Linked DNA regions of Homo sapiens: region 1 is linked to region 2. A link means that fine-mapping ties the variant in region 2 to the expression of a gene that starts in the linked region. Tissue or cell type: prefrontal cortex. Region 2 holds a variant in brackets; the other region holds the start of a gene. All regions are shown on one strand. Distances are from middle to middle.

Region 1 (8,104 bases), 330 kb after region 2:
AAAAAAAATTGAAAAAAAAGAAAAGAAAAGAAAAGAAAAGAAAGTCAGCTGGGCGCAGTGGCTCATGCCTGTAATCCTAGCACTTTGGGAGGCCAAGGCAGGCGGATCACCTGAGGTCAGGAGTTCAAGACCAGCCTGGCCAACAATGGTGAAACCCTGTCTGTACTAAAAATACAAAAATTAACCAGGTGTGGTAGCACACGCCTGTAATCCCAGCTACTCTGGAGTCTGAGGCAGGAGAATTGCTTGAACCCGGGGGGCAGCAGCTGCAGTGAGCTGAGATTGTGCCACTTCACTCCAGTCTGGGTGAAAGAGCAAAACTCCATCTCAAAAAAAGAAAAAAAAAAACAACAAGTCAGGAGGCAGCCTCAAGTAGGTGCAGATGAGAGTGTTCTAGATACAAGGAGAGAGAGAGGGATCAAAGGTGACAAGTTCCTAGCGTGGGTACCTAGATGGCTGCTGAGGCCATCATCCAAAACAGAAGGAGATACACATTGGCTAAGAGAAGTGTTTGATTTTATTGATTTAGAGGCAGGGTCTTGCTCTGTCGCCCAGGCTGGAATGCAGTGGTGCAATCACTGTTCACTGCAATCTTGACTCCCTGGGCTCAAGCGATCTTCCCGCCTCAGCCTCCCAAGTAGCCAGAACCACAAATGCGTGCCACCATGCCCGGTAAATTTTGTATTTTTTTTTTTTTTTTTTTGCATAGATGGGGTTTCACCATGTTGCCCAGGCTGGTCTTGAACTCCTGAGTTCAAGCGATCCACCTGCCTCAGCCTCCCAAAGTGCTAGTATTGCAGGTGTGAGCCACCGCGCCCAGCCATGTTTGATTTTAGATGCGGTAGGGTAAGGTTCCTGAGTTGAAGTTTCAAAATCAACTTTATCAAGCTATAATTCATATATTGTAAACTGCACTCATTTGAAGTATATAATTTAATTAATTCTGACAAATGTATATACCTGTGCAGGGCCAGGTTCATGGGCTGTTTGACCCCCCAGTGGTCACACAGAGTCCTACTCCTTTTTTTTTTTTTTTTTTTTTTTTTTTTGAGAAGGAGTCTTGCTCTGTCACCTAGGCTGGAGTGCAGTGGTACAATCTCGGCTCACTGCAACCTCTGCCTCCCGGGTTCAAGCAATTCTTCTGCCTCAGCATCCTAGTAGCTGGGATTACAGGTGCCCACCACCATGCCTGGCTAATTTTTGTATTTTTTAGTAGAGATGGGGTTTCACCGTGTTGGTCAGGCTGGTCTTGAACTCCTGACCGCAGGTAATCCACCCGCCTTGGCCTCTCAAAGTGCTGGGATCACAGACATGAGTCACCGCGCCTGGCCGAGTCCTACTCTTAGAAGGGCCATAGGCTCGGGGTTTAGTGCTCTGAGTTTCACAGTGTGAAAATTTCTTAGTAATTTTACCTTTGAATTTTTGTTTTGTCAATGAAATCTGACGGGAAAATGGAGGCTGCTGGGGGAAGGGGGTTGGTGCCTTAGCTGCTGCTGAGTCTCACCTCTTGTCACCCCCCACTACCCCCAATCCCCACCTTCACCCTACCCAACCCCCAACCCCATCTAGGGCAGGGCATGGCAATACCCCCGTACATTCAGAGTGAGACACGCGAGCATCCTGTCCACCACAGTCATGACACCAAGCACATCCTGGCACAGAGGGTGCAATCCCTCGAGGGCCACCCATCTGCTATGGGACGATAGCTAGGAAGGGGAGTGTTCCCGTACCCAAGGAAACACATTAAACAGTAAACAAAAACAGCATAACAGGTTGATAGAGACCACAGAGAAAAGGAAAGCTTTCTAATTTAGTACCTTTAGTGGCACTTTTCCCTGCTTCTTCCTGTTTTCATTTTGCACTAAGCCATGCAAATAATGCAGCCAGCCCTGCACCTGTGTAGCTACTGCCACAATCAGGATAGAGAGTATTTCCATCACTCAGGAATTTTCCTCTTAGCCCACCGCAGAGTCAATCCTCCCCCACCCATGGCACACCTCGACCACTGATCTACTTTCAAGACAGCTGAGTTTTAAAACTTGTAGCAGGAGGCCAGAGCAGTGGCTCACGCCTGTAATCCCAGTGGGAGGCCGAGGCAGGCGGATCACCTGAGGTCAGGAGTTCAAGACCAGCCTGGCCCCTGTCTCTACTAAAAATACAAAAATTAGCCGGGCGTGATAGCGCATGCTTTGTAATCCCAGCTACTTGGGAGGCTGAGGCAGGAGAATTGCTTGAACCCAAGGGGCAGAGGTTGCAGTGAGCAGTGATCGTGCCATTGCACTCCAGCCTGGGCAACAGAGCAAGACTCCATCTCAAAAAAAAAAAAAAAAGAAAAGAAAAGAAAAAGAAAAGAAAAGAAAAGAAAGAAAACAAAACAACCTTGTAGCAGGGCTCTGGATCTCTGATCTGGAGCTCAGGAAAAGCAGGGCTGGAACAGATTTGGGAGTGATCCCATAGGGGTAACCTTGGGAGAGCTGAGATAACCCAGAGAAGTGTAAGCGGCTGGGGTGGGCCAGCCCCATCCAGGGATGAAGACAGGCGCAAGAAGAGAAGAAAGTGCAGGTGGAGGGCAGGAGAATTTGCCATATCCAGGGCATATGGACTCATAAGAAAAACTCACAGACATATTAAAAGTAGCTGGAAGTTGGGTTTGCTCTGTTAATGAAGGATTAGGGAAAGCATATGTAAGAGAACCTAGAACATAAACAGTCCTCTTTGGAAGCCAGTTTGTCTTTCAAGAGAAAGCAAACAAAACACCACATCCTTGCAGAGCCTTCCAGGACCCTACTCCTGCTTCTTGGTCTAGCCTCCTCCCCCTGTCCCTAATTTTGGCATAATTGACTGCTCCTTGTCATCCAGATCTGTTTTAACGTCACCTCCTCAGAGAGGCCTTCCCCAGTCACCAATCTAAAAGAGCACCCAGTGGTCACATCAATTTAATGCAATATGCCATACTGTCCCTATCACTTTTAATGTCTGCCAGGCCCTCCATTTCAGCCACGACCACCTCCCCCAAATCACCCCTTAAAAGAACAAGGACTTTGCCTCATTCAGAGCTCAATTTCCAGGGCCTGGAAGAGTGTCAGGCACGTGGCAGATGCTCAATAACTGTTGAATAAAAAGGAATGATAGGCCGGGCAGTGGCTCACGTCTGTAATCCCAGCACTTTGGGAGGCTGAGGCGGGCAGATCACCTGAGGTCAGAAGTTCGAGACCAGCGTGACCAACATGGCGAAACCCCATCTCTACTAAAAATACAAAAATTAGCCGGGCATAGTGGTACGCATCTGTAATCCCAGCTACTCAAGAGGCTGAGGCAGGAGAATGGTTTAAACTTGGGAGGCGGAGGTTGCAGTGAACCGAGATGGCGCCACTGCACTCCAACCTGGGCGACAGAGAGAGACTCGGTCTCAAAAAAAAAAAAAAGGAATGACCAGTCATAAAAAAGAATGAGTCGTACCACCCGAAGTGTAGACTTCACCTGCAGGGAGGGAGGCTGGAACTGGCAAGGTTGGAGGCAAAACTGTACCTACTGTACCTTTCTCGCCCAATCCTACCTGCACATGAACTCCCTCCCCACCCCTTTAGTCTCTCGGGCCCTTACTCTCTTTATCCGGCTCTTTTGCAAACATTTCCCATGATATTCTCCCTTCACCGTCACAGTCCTTATGCTCGTTTCCCAAAAGAGCTTCTCCGATGATCTCTCCCAGGTTGGCCGAGTGAGCGGGCCTAGCCTGCGCTCTCACCCCAGTGCCACCCCAGTGGGAGCGCCGCCCGCGCCCGCCCCCTCGCCCCGCGCCCGCCCCCTCGCCCCGCGCCCGCCCCCTCGCCCCGCGCCCGCCGCTCCGGCAGCCCAAACCCAGACGCTAAAGCGCCGAACTGGGTTTCCGGGCGCTGGAGGCCGCGGTCGGCCTCGTACTAGGTGACGGCCCATCCCGCGCGCGCAAGCCCGGAACCCCGCTCCGCTCACCCTCCGCGCGCTGCCGCTTTGCCCTGGCAACGGTAACCACGGCGAGGCCCTGCCCCACGCCCGGTGATTGTGCGCGCGGCCCCGCCCCCGAGGCGCACGCCGGCCCAGCGCCCACAGCTGCGGCGGCCTAGGTGCCGCGTGGGGCAAGCAGGTGCCTCGCGTCCAGGCGGCTCCGCGGCTGGCTGCCTCCCGAGCCGGCCGCGCTCCTCCCAGCGAGGCGTGGCGGGGAGGCGTAGTGAGGCTGGGCCCGTGGCGGTTCCCTGAGGAGGGCCGAGAAGGGGCCGGGGGTGCTAGGGGAACGGGCGCTGGGGGCAGCGGCCCCGGTGGATGCTAAGGGCTTCGGGATCGGGAGAGTCCACCACGCCTGCCTGCTCGGCTGAGAATCGCCATGGTAATCCCCGTCTCCCTAAAGTACCCGGGGCCAGGGCGCGCGCCGTGGAGCCCCAGGCTGTCCCGGAGAGGCGCGGGCGCCGAGGTCACCGCCTCTCCCTGGGGTCGACCTCAACGCGTGGCGAAAAGATGGAGGGACAAGGGGTGCCCGGCGGTCCGCGCCTGCTGGGGGCGCAGCAGCCGCGGAGTCAGGCCAGCCGTCTTTCCAGGTTTTAGGTCGTGGTCCTGTTGAGCAGCCCCCACACCCAGACGGTTGATGTGGAAAATAAAGGGAGGGTGGCACCGTGGTGTGGCACGTCAGGGCGCCAGGCCATGCCCACAGTGACGGGTCCGAGCTGTTAGCTGCCGTAGCCACCCTGGGTGCCCGCGCGGGATTCTCCACTGCTCTGCAGACTCAGGAAGCAGAGAGTGAGCCTGGTACCACCACCTTGCTGTCAACAGCATTCCTGTTCTCAGCCCTCATCCAGTCACTTACGACCTCCTTCCAACCCTCGCTGCTCTTTCCAGAAGGGCTGTGACCTTCCAGCCCCTGCCCCAAGTCCTCAGGGAGGCATCATTGTCTGCTAAACTAAGTACTGCACGCTTGAGCTGGGCGCACAGAGCCCTTGCTAAAGGGGCCTCAACCTCGAGCTTTCTCTGCCATATCTTCTCTGCTAAACAACAACAAACAAAACGAACAAAAACCCTGCATCCCACACTAAACCCGCGTTCTTCTGGAAGCCCCTTGCGCCTTCCCTGTCTTGATCCGTTTTCTTTGAGGCTTGGATCAGAAGGACCCTGCCTCCTGCTTCCCCATCGCTCCTTCAGCGCCCACAGCCCTTTGCACCTCACCTCTGGTGCTTTGCCTGTTTTTCCTTGGAAAGCCTTATTCCTCATTAGACTCTAGTGTAGAAATCATTAAGTTTCTGTGTTCTTTCCAGTTTGTTTCGTGTAAAAGGATTAAGTAAAAATTTCTTGGTTTGAGAGTCATTCCATGAGCTATTAAAGGTAAAGAGCTATTACCTTTTTTTTTTTTTTTTTTGACAGGGTCTTACTTTGTCACACAGGCTGGAGTACAGTGGTGTGATCACAGCTGACTGCAGCCTCCATCTCTGAGGCTCAAGTGATCCTCCCGCCTCAGCCTCCCAAGTAGCTCGGACCGTAGGCAGGCATCACCATGCCTGGCTAATCTCTGTATTTTTAGTAGAGACAGGGTTTCGCCATGTTGCCCAGGCTGGTCTCAAACGCCTGGGCTCAAGGGATCCGCCCGCCTTGGCCTCTCAAATTGCTGGGATTACAGGTGTGAGCCACTGTGCCCAGCCAACTGCCATTTCTTTCAGGGCCCAGGGAACTGAGGCAGAATGCTGTACATAGCCATTGAAGCAAATGCCAGTTAATTCATGCTCCTTGAATGAGGGTCAAACACATTAGTGCACAGAGCCTGCAAGCCAGAGCGGAACCTTGCCTACCTTTCCTTCCTTAGCTGCTCTCACTGGCCCCCTTGGCTGCCTGTGGGCTGGCCATGTTGGCCTTTTTTGGGTTTCCGTCTCTTTGTGCACCTTCTCTCCGGCTTCAGAGACTTTGCATAGGCTGTTGGTCTTGGAATTCCCTACTCTCGGCCCACAGGCCACGCTTAGGGAGCCCTTCCTTTGATGGCCCAGATGAGGTCAGCCCTTGCCCATCTTGTGCTATTATAATTCCATGTGTTATAGGCATTATAGGGTCTTTCTTTATTAATTTCTTTGTTTTTGTTTTTTTTTTTTTAGAGATAGGGTTTTGCTTTGTTGCCCAGGCTGGAGTGCGATGGCATCATACATAGCTCACTTTGGCCTTGAATTCCTGGGCTCAAGGGGTCCTCCCACCTCAGCAGCCTGAGTACTGGGGACTACAGGTGTGTGCCACTGAGCCCAGCTAATTTTTTAAATTTTTGTAGAGACCGGATTTTGCCATCTTTCCCAGACTGGTCTCAAACTGGGTGCAAGTGATCCACCTGCCTCGGCCTCCCAGAGTGCCGGGATTACAGGTGTGAACCACCATGCCTGGCCAATAGGGCCCTTTCTTCACAGCATGGGTCGTGAGTAAATGCATTTGTGATTAGGTGACTAGTGTCTTCCTCAGACCTCACTGGACTGTAAGCATCGTGAGATCTCCTTTGCTCCCCATCTAATACAGGGCCTGGGACACAGTAGATTTTTGTTAAATACTTGTTGAATGAATGAAGGAGGCATCTTAAAATTCAGAAAAGCAGAAATCCACATTTGCTTTCTAAATCCTGTTATTGCATTGCATCTCAGTTGTGATGTATTCATTCACTCAGCAGATATTTATGCATCCTTGCAGTGTGGCAGATATTGGTGTAGGCTGGGGAATTCAGTGGTAAATTTATAGACAGAATCTCTGGTGAGGGAAACAAACAATAAACATAAACAACAATTACTATTAACTAGTGAAAAGTGGTGCGGGGAAGGAGATGGACAGTGACTCTACTGGGGTTGCTGGGAGACTGTTAAAGACAGACCACTGTACTTCCCCCTGTCCCTAGCCTGGGACAGTCTCAGTTTATGTTTGTTTATATTTGTTGAAGTATCTTGATTTGGGCAATAAATTATATGGTCACTCCAGTTACAGACAGAATATAGACATGGTGTCAGGGAGGTCTTTCTTTTTCTCTTTTTCTCTTTTTTTTTTTTGAGACAGAGTTTCACTCTTGTCGCCCAGGCTGGAGTGCAATGGCGCGATCTCGGTTCACTGCAACCTCCGCCTCCCCGGTTCAAGCAATTCTCCTGCCTCAGCCTCCTGAGTAGCTGGGATTACAGGCACCCGCCACCGTGCCTGGCTAATTTTTTTTGTATTTTTAGTAGAGATGGGGTTTTACCATGTTGTCCAGGCTGGTCTTGAACTCCTGACCTCAGATGATCCACCGGCCTCGGCCTCCCAAAGTGCTGAGCCACTGTGAGCCACCATGCCCAGCCTGTCAAGGAGGTTTTTCTAAAGAGGTGATATTTGAGCAGAGGCTAGCGTAAAGAGAAGCAACGAATTCTGCCCCTTCAATTAGAAGGTCTGCAGGAAGAGCAAGCATTGCCCAGGGAGAAGCTCGGAGTGTTGGGAACTAGAAGAAAGTCCAGTGTGGCTGGAGTCAAGTGGTTTTCCTTAAGGAGTTTGGAGGGTTTTAAGTTGGGAGCTGCATGTTCTGAGACCAGGAAAAGCCAAGAGCCACAAAGTTGTATTGAACCAATCCAAGGAATGGATGGGCCCAGAAACAAAACCTTTATTATTCCCATGTAATAATTTCTTAACAGATTTATTGAGGTGGAATGTATATACAATAAATTTTACATGTTTAAAATGCATGCTTTAGGCATGGTAGCTCATGCCTGTAAACCCAGAATTTTGGGAGGCTGAGGCGAGAGGATAGCTTGAGCTCAGGAGTTCGAGACCTGCTTGGGCACCATAATGAGACCCTCATCTCTATAAAAAGTAGAAAAAATTAGTTGGACATGGTGGTGCAAATCTGTAGTCCCAGTTACTCAGGAGGCTGAGGTGGGAGGATCGCTTGAGTCTGGGAGATCGAGACTGCAGTGAGCCATGATCGTGCCACTGTACTCCAGCCTGGGCAACAGAGTGAGACCTGTTTCAAAAAATAAATAAAAAATAAAATGCACACTTTGATAGGTTTGGCAAATGTGTGCATTCATTAAGCCATCACCACAATCAAGATTGTAAATACAGCCATCACCCATTTTTTTGTAATCCACCTTTCTCTCTT
Region 2 (8,104 bases):
GCCTCCTGAGTAGCTGGGATTACAGGTGCCTGCCAAACCACGCCCAGCTAATTCTTGTATTTTTAGTAAAGATGGGGTTTTGCAATATTGGCCAGGCTGGTCTTGAACTCCTGACCTCAGGTGATCTGCCCTCCTCGGCCTCCCAAAGTGCTGGGATTACCGGTGTGAGCCACAGCACCTGGCCAAAAAAGTTAACTTTTAAGTAAAAGTGCTTCTGAGACAAGTCCTGAGTTCCCCTTCCTCTGGTGCAATAGACACTTGACTTTGAGATCCAGTTGGCTCTCATGGAGTAATGATTGACTCACAATATTGAAGATTCCTCCCCTGTGTTTTCTCTATCTTAAGGAGAAGTTTTTCAGCACTGATACTGTAATTATTTCAGCCAATACTTTTGATCACTTCCATTTGCCTGCAAAGCCAGAAACTTCTCTCAAGAAGATTATAGCTGAGTATGTAAAACAAAATATATGTACAACTGTAATACCAACAAGCACAGTGGTAAGTTATAACAAGATATACGAAGTAATAGAAATTAAGAAGTGAGAATATCTTCAGGCGAAGGCAACTGGGAAGCTGGAGCTCAAAGTTTAAGGCTGTGTTAAAACACAACCTAAAGTTCCCAGTAGAAGCTTGCTATAGACTTTTGGTGGCTCTGAGAATTCCCCTGGTCACCTCAGTGTGAGGGGTGGGTGATTCTTAACCTCTGGTGGGTTTTGTTGCAGTTTAGCTGCTGTGGAGGGATTTCCTACAAGGACTGGTCTCAGAACATGTATTTCAACTGCTCAGAAGACAACCCCAGTCGAGAGCGCTGCTCTGTGCCTTACTCCTGTTGCTTGCCTACTCCTGACCAGGTGAGCCAGCATCCTGCCTCATTTCCTCCTAGGCAGCGAGCTGAGTCACTTTCTGATGGGGGCAGCTGCTACTGGGGATCCCCATCCCCTAGCTTCACCGATCAGTCATGTGGGACAGCTGTCAGGTGTTTTTCTTCACCCCAACCTGATGCTTCTATTAACCTCATACTCATGTAGTCCACATGGAGTTCAGAAGGGACAGATTTAAGTTTTAAGTTCAGATTCAGTACCTGTGCAGGTTTGTTATATAAGTAAACTTGTGTCTTAGGGGTTTGTTGTACAGATTATTCCACCACCCAGAGCAAAGAGACCTGGATCCTGACCTCTCAGAGGAAGGGAAGTCTGCATTTGGCAACTTCCAACCCAATATCCTCCACATATATTCTCTGACAATTTAGGAGTTTGGGAAGGGTGGGAAGCCCATCAGCTAAGGCCCCAAACAAAAAGTTATTGGAATTACAGTCCCAATTGGCTTTTCAACTCTTTCCCCAGGCAGTGATCAACACTATGTGTGGCCAAGGTATGCAGGCCTTTGACTACTTGGAAGCTAGCAAAGTCATCTACACCAATGGCTGTATTGACAAGTTGGTCAACTGGATACACAGCAACCTATTCTTACTTGGTGGTGTGGCTCTAGGCCTGGCCATCCCCCAGGTAACTTACCCTGTGAGACTTGTTGGTCCCACACACTCTGTAAAGACTCCTTTGTTTTGGGGAAGGCACCTGGGGATCAGCGAGGGTGTCAGGCACTGACATGGCTGAGGGGTAGGGAAAGGGATAGTGCTGGCCGCACTGGGAAGATCGAGCCAGGGAAAACAAGGCCATCACTCACTGCTGAGTGCCCAATTCCTTCTTGCCTCTCCCAGCTGGTGGGAATTCTGCTGTCCCAGATCCTAGTGAATCAGATCAAAGATCAGATCAAGCTACAGCTCTACAACCAGCAGCACCGGGCTGACCCATGGTACTGAGAATCCATCCTGCACCTCCTCACCATGGAAACTGGCAAGCCTCATAAACGAACAGCAGTGGGTGCTGAAAGCAGCACCAAATGGAGATTTGGATTCCAGCCCCCCAGTGACAGCCCAGTGGGAAGAAGCAAACTCCAGATGGGCAGAAGGCAGGGTGCACAGGTGGCTCCAGTCTCAGGAGGATGCGCCTCCTCTCCCCCATCCCAGCCCTCAGCATTGTGCCAGAGTGATACCCTTAAGTGTTTGGGTTTATGTTTTCAGTTTTGTTTGGGAAACAGCAGTTGCACAGAGAGTTGGGGGTACTGCTGCTGCCTTTTCACCGAGGCACTGCCACCACCAGCTCTAGCAGGGATGCTCCTGAGCTTGGCGGACATACTTAGATCCTAACGTGCCAGTGAGACCTGGCTGTGGAGAGTAGCACTGGCAGCCCTGCCTGGACTCCACTTGGCATGATACCAGCTCCAGAAGGGAAGGGAGTGGAGCAGGCAGTGAGGAGAGAGCCTGGGGGTCGGCTGGGGACAGCCGTATGTGCTAGGTAGGAGTGGAGGGAGATATGTTTACCAAATGCCTGTCCTGCCATCCTCCCAGGTAGTCAGAGTGAGCTACATCCTGCCCCGCCTTCATTTCCATGGAAACATGGCAGCTAGGACACGGGGTACAACAGCAGCCAAATTCTTCCCCACCTCCCTTACTTCGAAAAAAAGTTTGGAACCCTGGTCCCTATACTCTGCAGTCAGAAGTGGGACTGAGCCATACATGCCCTTGAATTCCTCCCTGTCTGGCCCTCCCTCTCCAGCAAGCAGGGTTTTCTTTAACTTGGCAGTGTGCAGAGGAGAAGTGGTAACACCCCCACCCCATTCCCCTGCATCGGAGCTCAGTATTCCTACAGGGTAAGAGGTAGGAATCTTGCTGGGACGAGGGGAGCCAGAAGTGGCAATAAAAGCGTGTTGACCTGGGCTACGCGGGACTCCATGAATTTTCCATTCTGGCAACTGGAAGGGGAGGTGTAGAAGGGCCCTGCAGAGGACGGCACTGGAGACTCTCCTAAACGCCACACACCTCCCCCTTGCTGCCCGCCACACGCGCGTCTCCTTCAACCGATGCATTGCCACCCTCCCACAGCCTCGCCCTCTGCTCTAAATTAGGTCGAAAGAGTCCCAGTTCCAATCTAGGAACAGCATAATTTTGTTCCAAAACCTGATCTGTGTTTTTCTAATTAAAATTAATTTGTCACCCAAAACAGGAGGGGGATGGGGAGGAGGGACATGAGCACTCCGCTGGGGCCGGGACGGGGAATGAGGAGGAAGAAGGCCCTCTCTTCCC[C/T]TACCCGGGCCCTCCAGGACCTTCTCCCTGAGTCGGCTGTAGGGAGGACTCCGAGGAAGCTCGGCGCGGTGCGCTGGGCCTCCTGGCGCCGGGAGGAGCGCGCGAGGCAGGCGGGGCGGGCGCGTCCGGGGCGGGGCGCTGGACTTCGTGGGTGGTCCCCGCCCCCGCGGCGGCCTAGGCCCGCGCCTGCGTCCCCCAACCCGGAGGAGATGGGGGGCTGTGCTAGCTGCTTGCCCAGCGAGTGTTCCCGGAGTCTCCTCGCCGCACCCCGCTATCGGGCGCTCAGACCAGGGGCTCGGCCTGGCGGGAAATAGCCTCGACCGAACTGCTGCGGGGACAAAGAGCCGCGAGTTCGCTCCCTGCCCCCAGTGTCTCCTAAGCGAGCCTTCTGCTCCTAGGAAGGCGCCTTTCCAGCAGCCGCTGGGACCCTGGCCAGTGTTTAGCTCCCAACTAGTAACAGACGGAAAGAAAAAATAAAATTATCCAGAATCTAGAATAAAAAGTAAGGGCCTTTTATTCTGGGAGAGGACAGTTAAAAAGCGCGCTTTCTTGCTAACTTGCCTTTCTTGGTTAGTGCCAGAGACGTGCACTTTATAAACTTATTTAAGTGACACGGACCCAGAAGTCGATGTCTTGGGTTAGAGGTTGGAGTGATGCGCCCTCTGGGTTCAGCGGCTTTGAGGAGCTCACCCTGCAGCGGGCTCCGTTTGGGGCCCCTTGGAGGAAGTAAGACCAGGAACCGTGATCCTCAGAATGATTATTCAAATCTGGATTTTCAAAACTAAGAACTACACTTTCACCATCGCCTCTACTGTCTCTCAGTATCTAGCCTCCTGGGTCTGGACTAAAAGGCTGGGAACTTCTGCCCATGCCCCAGACTTTATAACGCACAGAGCAAATGTTCAGTATAGTGCAGTTCAGGGTTCCTAGCTAGATTGCAAATTGCCAATGTCTCTGATTCTCAGTCTGTAGCTTTCTTTCTCTTCGGCCTGATGCTGGGGAAGAAAATACGCGAAGTTTTATATTTCATGTTTGCTCCTTGAATTTCTACCTATTTCTAGTAACCCTCCTCCCAAACACACACTGTTACCAGACACACACTGTTACCGGGAGTCCTTCCCAAGAGAGGGTTCTTGGATCTGACACAAGAAAGAATTCAGGGCAAGTCCATAAAGTGAAAGCAAGTTTATTAGAAAAGTAAAGGAATAAAGAATGGCTACTCCATAGACAGAGCAGCCCCAAGGGCTGCTGGTTGCCCATTGTTAGGGTTATTTCTTGATGATATGCTAAACAAGGGGTGGATTATTCATGCCTCACCTTTTTAGACCATGTAAGGTAACTTCCTGACGTTGCCATGGCATTTGTAAACTGTCGTGGTGCTGATGGGAGCGTAGCAGTGAGGACGACCAGAGGTCACTCTCGTCAACATTTTGGTTGTGGTGGGTTTTGGCCGGCTTCTTTACCGCAATCTGTTTTATCAGCAAGGTATTTCTGACCTGTATCTTGTGCCGACCTCCTATCTCATCCTGTGACTTAGAATGCCTTAATCTGCTGGGAATGCAGCCCAGTAGGTCTCAGCCTTATTTTACCCAGCGCCTATTGAAGATGGAGTTGCTCTGGTTCAAATGCTTCTGACACCACTACTTTAGAATAGCTAATCAAATGTAGGCCGCAAAGGTGGTTGAATGAAAGGAGATTCTTGGGGACAGCAGAAATCAGGCTTGGTACACAGAGGTGGAGAGAAAGGCCTGAAGGATGGTGAAAACCTGCCAGGGTGGCATGCCAAGAAAGGCACCACTAAGTTCTGCGGGCCTTAAGCCCTGCAGTTAAACAAAGACTTGTGCCCAGAAGAGCAAATTTTGCAGAATGTTCAGTGAAATTCTGATTTCCTCCTATCAGGTTTTTATTGCTACTGTTACAAATTACCAGACATTTAGTAGTTTAAAGCAACACAAATTTATCTTACATTCTGGAAGTAAGAAGTCCAAAATGGGTCTCACTGAGCTAAGATCAAGGTGTGAGCAGGGCTGTATTCCTTCTTGGGGGCTTCAGGGGAGAATCCATCTTTCCTGCTCCCAGAGGCCGCGTGCATACCTTTGGGTGGTCCCTTTCTCCAACTTCTGTCATCACATCTCCTTTTTCTCTGACTCTCCTACTGCCCCCTGACAGGACCCCTGTGATTGTATTGGCCCATCTAGATTATCCAGGATGCCCTTCCCCCATGAAGATCATGAATCTCGCCACGTCTACAAAGTCCCTTTTAGTATGTAAGGAAAGAGATGCATCGGTTCTAGGGATTAGGGCATGGACATTTTTGGGGTGGCATGATTTAGCTCATTACATCCCCCTTTCCAGCCTCATGAATGCCTTCAGGTGCGGGGCATTTGGGAATGAGCTGATGTTGGATGCTGGCAAGAGTTTGAGGTAGGTGTTCTCTGGTCTTCTTTCTGATAATTATGTAACGTCTATCAAGTGCTTATGATGCACCAGGCACATATTTATTATGAAGTTCAATACGCAGCCTTGGCTATTTTCTGACTTATCCTCATCCTGAAGACCAGATATGTTAACAGGGCCAGAGACCAGGTTCAAAAAGGAGAGCAGGCCAGGTGCAGTGGCTCATACCTGTAATCCCGGCACTTTGGGAGGCCAAGGCAGGAGGATCACCTGAGGTCAGGAGTTTGAGACCAGCCTGGGCAACAGAGGGAGACCCTGTCTGTACAAAACATAAAAATTAGCCAGGCATGGTGACATGTTGGCCTCTACTGTCTCTTGCTATCTAGCCTCCTGGGTCAGTCCCAGCTACTTTGGAAGCTAAGGTGGGGAGGATCACTTGAGCCTGGGGGTGTGTAGGGGTGGGGGTGGGAGGCAGGGAGGTGGGTGTCGAGGCTGCAGAGACCTGTGATCACCCCACTGCACTCCAGTGAGCAACAGAGAAGACTCTTTCTCTCTCTCTCTCTCTCTCTCACACACACACACACACACACACACACACACACACAAAGCAAGCAGCACAGCTTCTTCCATCAGCAGTTCTTCTGTTCTGTTTTGTAAACACCCCCACCCCACCCCCAAAAATAAGAGCAATTAGATATTTCAAATCATCATAGGTAAAGCACTTAGGGGAGGGAATAAAGTAAGGGATAACCACGGTCTAGAACTCCAGTTGGAAATTAAGCCTCCAGAGTCTTCTCATTACCATATCGGGAATGTGGAAAATCAATCAAATGAATGGAAATAGCAAAGGGATTCCAGAAATATTTTGGACATCGGTGCTCACTATATAATAAACAAGAAGCAATGCAATGTTGAGAGGAAGCTGTAATCATAATTACTAATAAATGCTATTAGGCGAATTATTACAGTGTGGAAAATAAGTAACAGATTCCTACCTCACACTGTGCACTGCAAAGCATTCCAGAAGGGTAAAAGAGCTAAGATTTTAAAGTAAAACAAACAAGAAAACCAGAATATCATACTGTCCTAGCTCTAGGAAGCTACAGTAGACAGCTTTTCAGTGTATCTTCCCAACTTGCAATGATTCCTTCTTCTTTGGAAACTGGCATCCACCCCTCAAGCCATAGGGGTGAGTCTTGAGGAGCCATATTTATCCTCTAAGGCCTGGTCCCCTAGGCATAGCTGATTGGATCCAGCTCAGGCACTCTATTCGTTTCCTAGGGCTCCCATCACAAAGTACCACAAAAATAGATCGCTTAAAACAACAGATAATTATTGTTTCACAGTTTTGGAGGCCGGAAGTCTGAAATCAAGGTGTTGACCAGGCCATGCTCCCCGGAAGCCTCCAGGGGAGGATCCTTCCTTGTCCTTTCCAGCTTCTGGTAGCTGGGTATTCCTTGGCTTGCGGCAGTATAAATGCAGACTCTGCCTCCCTCTTCATCTTCCCTCTGTGTCTGTGTCCCAATTTTCCTCTTCTCATAAGGATGCCAGTCACATTGGATCAAGGCCCACTGTACTCCAGTATCCTCATCTTTTTTTTTTTTTTTTTTTTTTGAGACAAAGTCTTGCTCTGTCACCCAGGCTGGAGTGTAGTGTCACGATCTTGGCTCACTGCAACCTCCACCTCCTGGGTTCAAGTGATTCTCCTGCCTCAGTCTCCCTAGTAGCTGGGATTACAGGCACGCACTTCCACGCCCTGCTAATTTTTGTATTTTTAGTAGAGTCAGGGTTTCACCATGTTGGTCAGGATGGTCTTGAACTTCTGACCTCAGGTGATCTGACCATCTCAGCCTCCCAAAATGCTGGGATTACAAGCGTGAGCCACCACGCGCCTGGCCTCCAGTATCATCATCTTAATTAATTACTTCTGCAATGACCCTATCTCCAAATAAGGTCCCAATCTGAGGTGCAGGGGTCTAGGGCTTCAACATATCTTTTTTAAGAAGTCAAAATTCAACCCACAACAGGCACCTAACCCAAACAGTAACAAACAGAGTTATTTCCCTGGGACTTGGGAATTGAGAATGAGGTTCTAGTCACAGCCTGGGCTGGTCTCATGAAGAAAGAGAAGGCAAAGGGAGGCTGAGGTACCAGCCCTCTTATGCTCCAGGGACTGATTATGGAGAAAGTCTATTCCCAGAAACAAGAGAAGGAAGGAGTGGAGTGCGGTGAGGAGGAAGAAGAGGAGTCCTCCTAGAAGCGCCTTTCCTCTATAATCCCAGAACCTTTCTGCAGCGGCACTGCTTTCCAGCCGTGGCTTCCCTATCTGCTTACAGTAAAGCCTGTTTTGTTTGCTTAGGGAAGCTCAACTAGTTTCTCTTGCTCGCAAGCAGAGTTAATAGAAAAACTAGAATCAGAGTAAGATGCTGTATTAGTACTCTTTTGCTGCTGTAACAACTTTCCACAAACTCAGCGCTCAAAACAACACAAATTTGGCCGGGTGCGGTGGCTCATGCCTGTAATCCTAGCACTTTGGGAGGCCAAGGTGGGTGGATCACCTAAGGT

Which allele goes with the higher level. Positions count from the first base shown, and alleles are read on the strand shown. Sizes are in standard deviations (SD) of each study's normalised expression.
As copies of C replace T in region 2, the expression in prefrontal cortex of the gene that starts at base 4,064 in region 1 goes up (large effect, 1.7 SD a copy in GTEx).

What was found. PIP is the estimated chance that this variant, and not a neighbour inherited with it, causes the effect.
Region 1: it holds the start of SMKR1, and the variant in region 2 is fine-mapped to the expression of SMKR1 in prefrontal cortex (GTEx, PIP above 0.99).

The regions. Positions count from the first base shown.
Region 1 is chr7:129,498,468-129,506,571 of GRCh38, forward strand. SMKR1 (small lysine rich protein 1) reads left to right here and starts at 4,064. Exons shown (of 2, transcript NM_001195243.2): 1 at 4,064-4,360. The coding sequence starts at 4,358. RefSeq lists silencers at 3,763-3,812, 3,873-4,212.
Region 2 is chr7:129,166,056-129,174,159 of GRCh38, forward strand. TSPAN33 (tetraspanin 33) reads left to right here. Exons shown (of 8, transcript NM_178562.5): 6 at 723-851; 7 at 1,344-1,505; 8 at 1,718-3,644. The coding sequence ends at 1,819. Among named protein-coding and RNA genes, the nearest start is that of SMO, 19 kb to the right of the region's middle. RefSeq lists a silencer at 3,132-3,351 and enhancers at 3,722-3,771, 3,841-4,710. The variant C/T (reference allele first, on the strand shown) is at 3,143.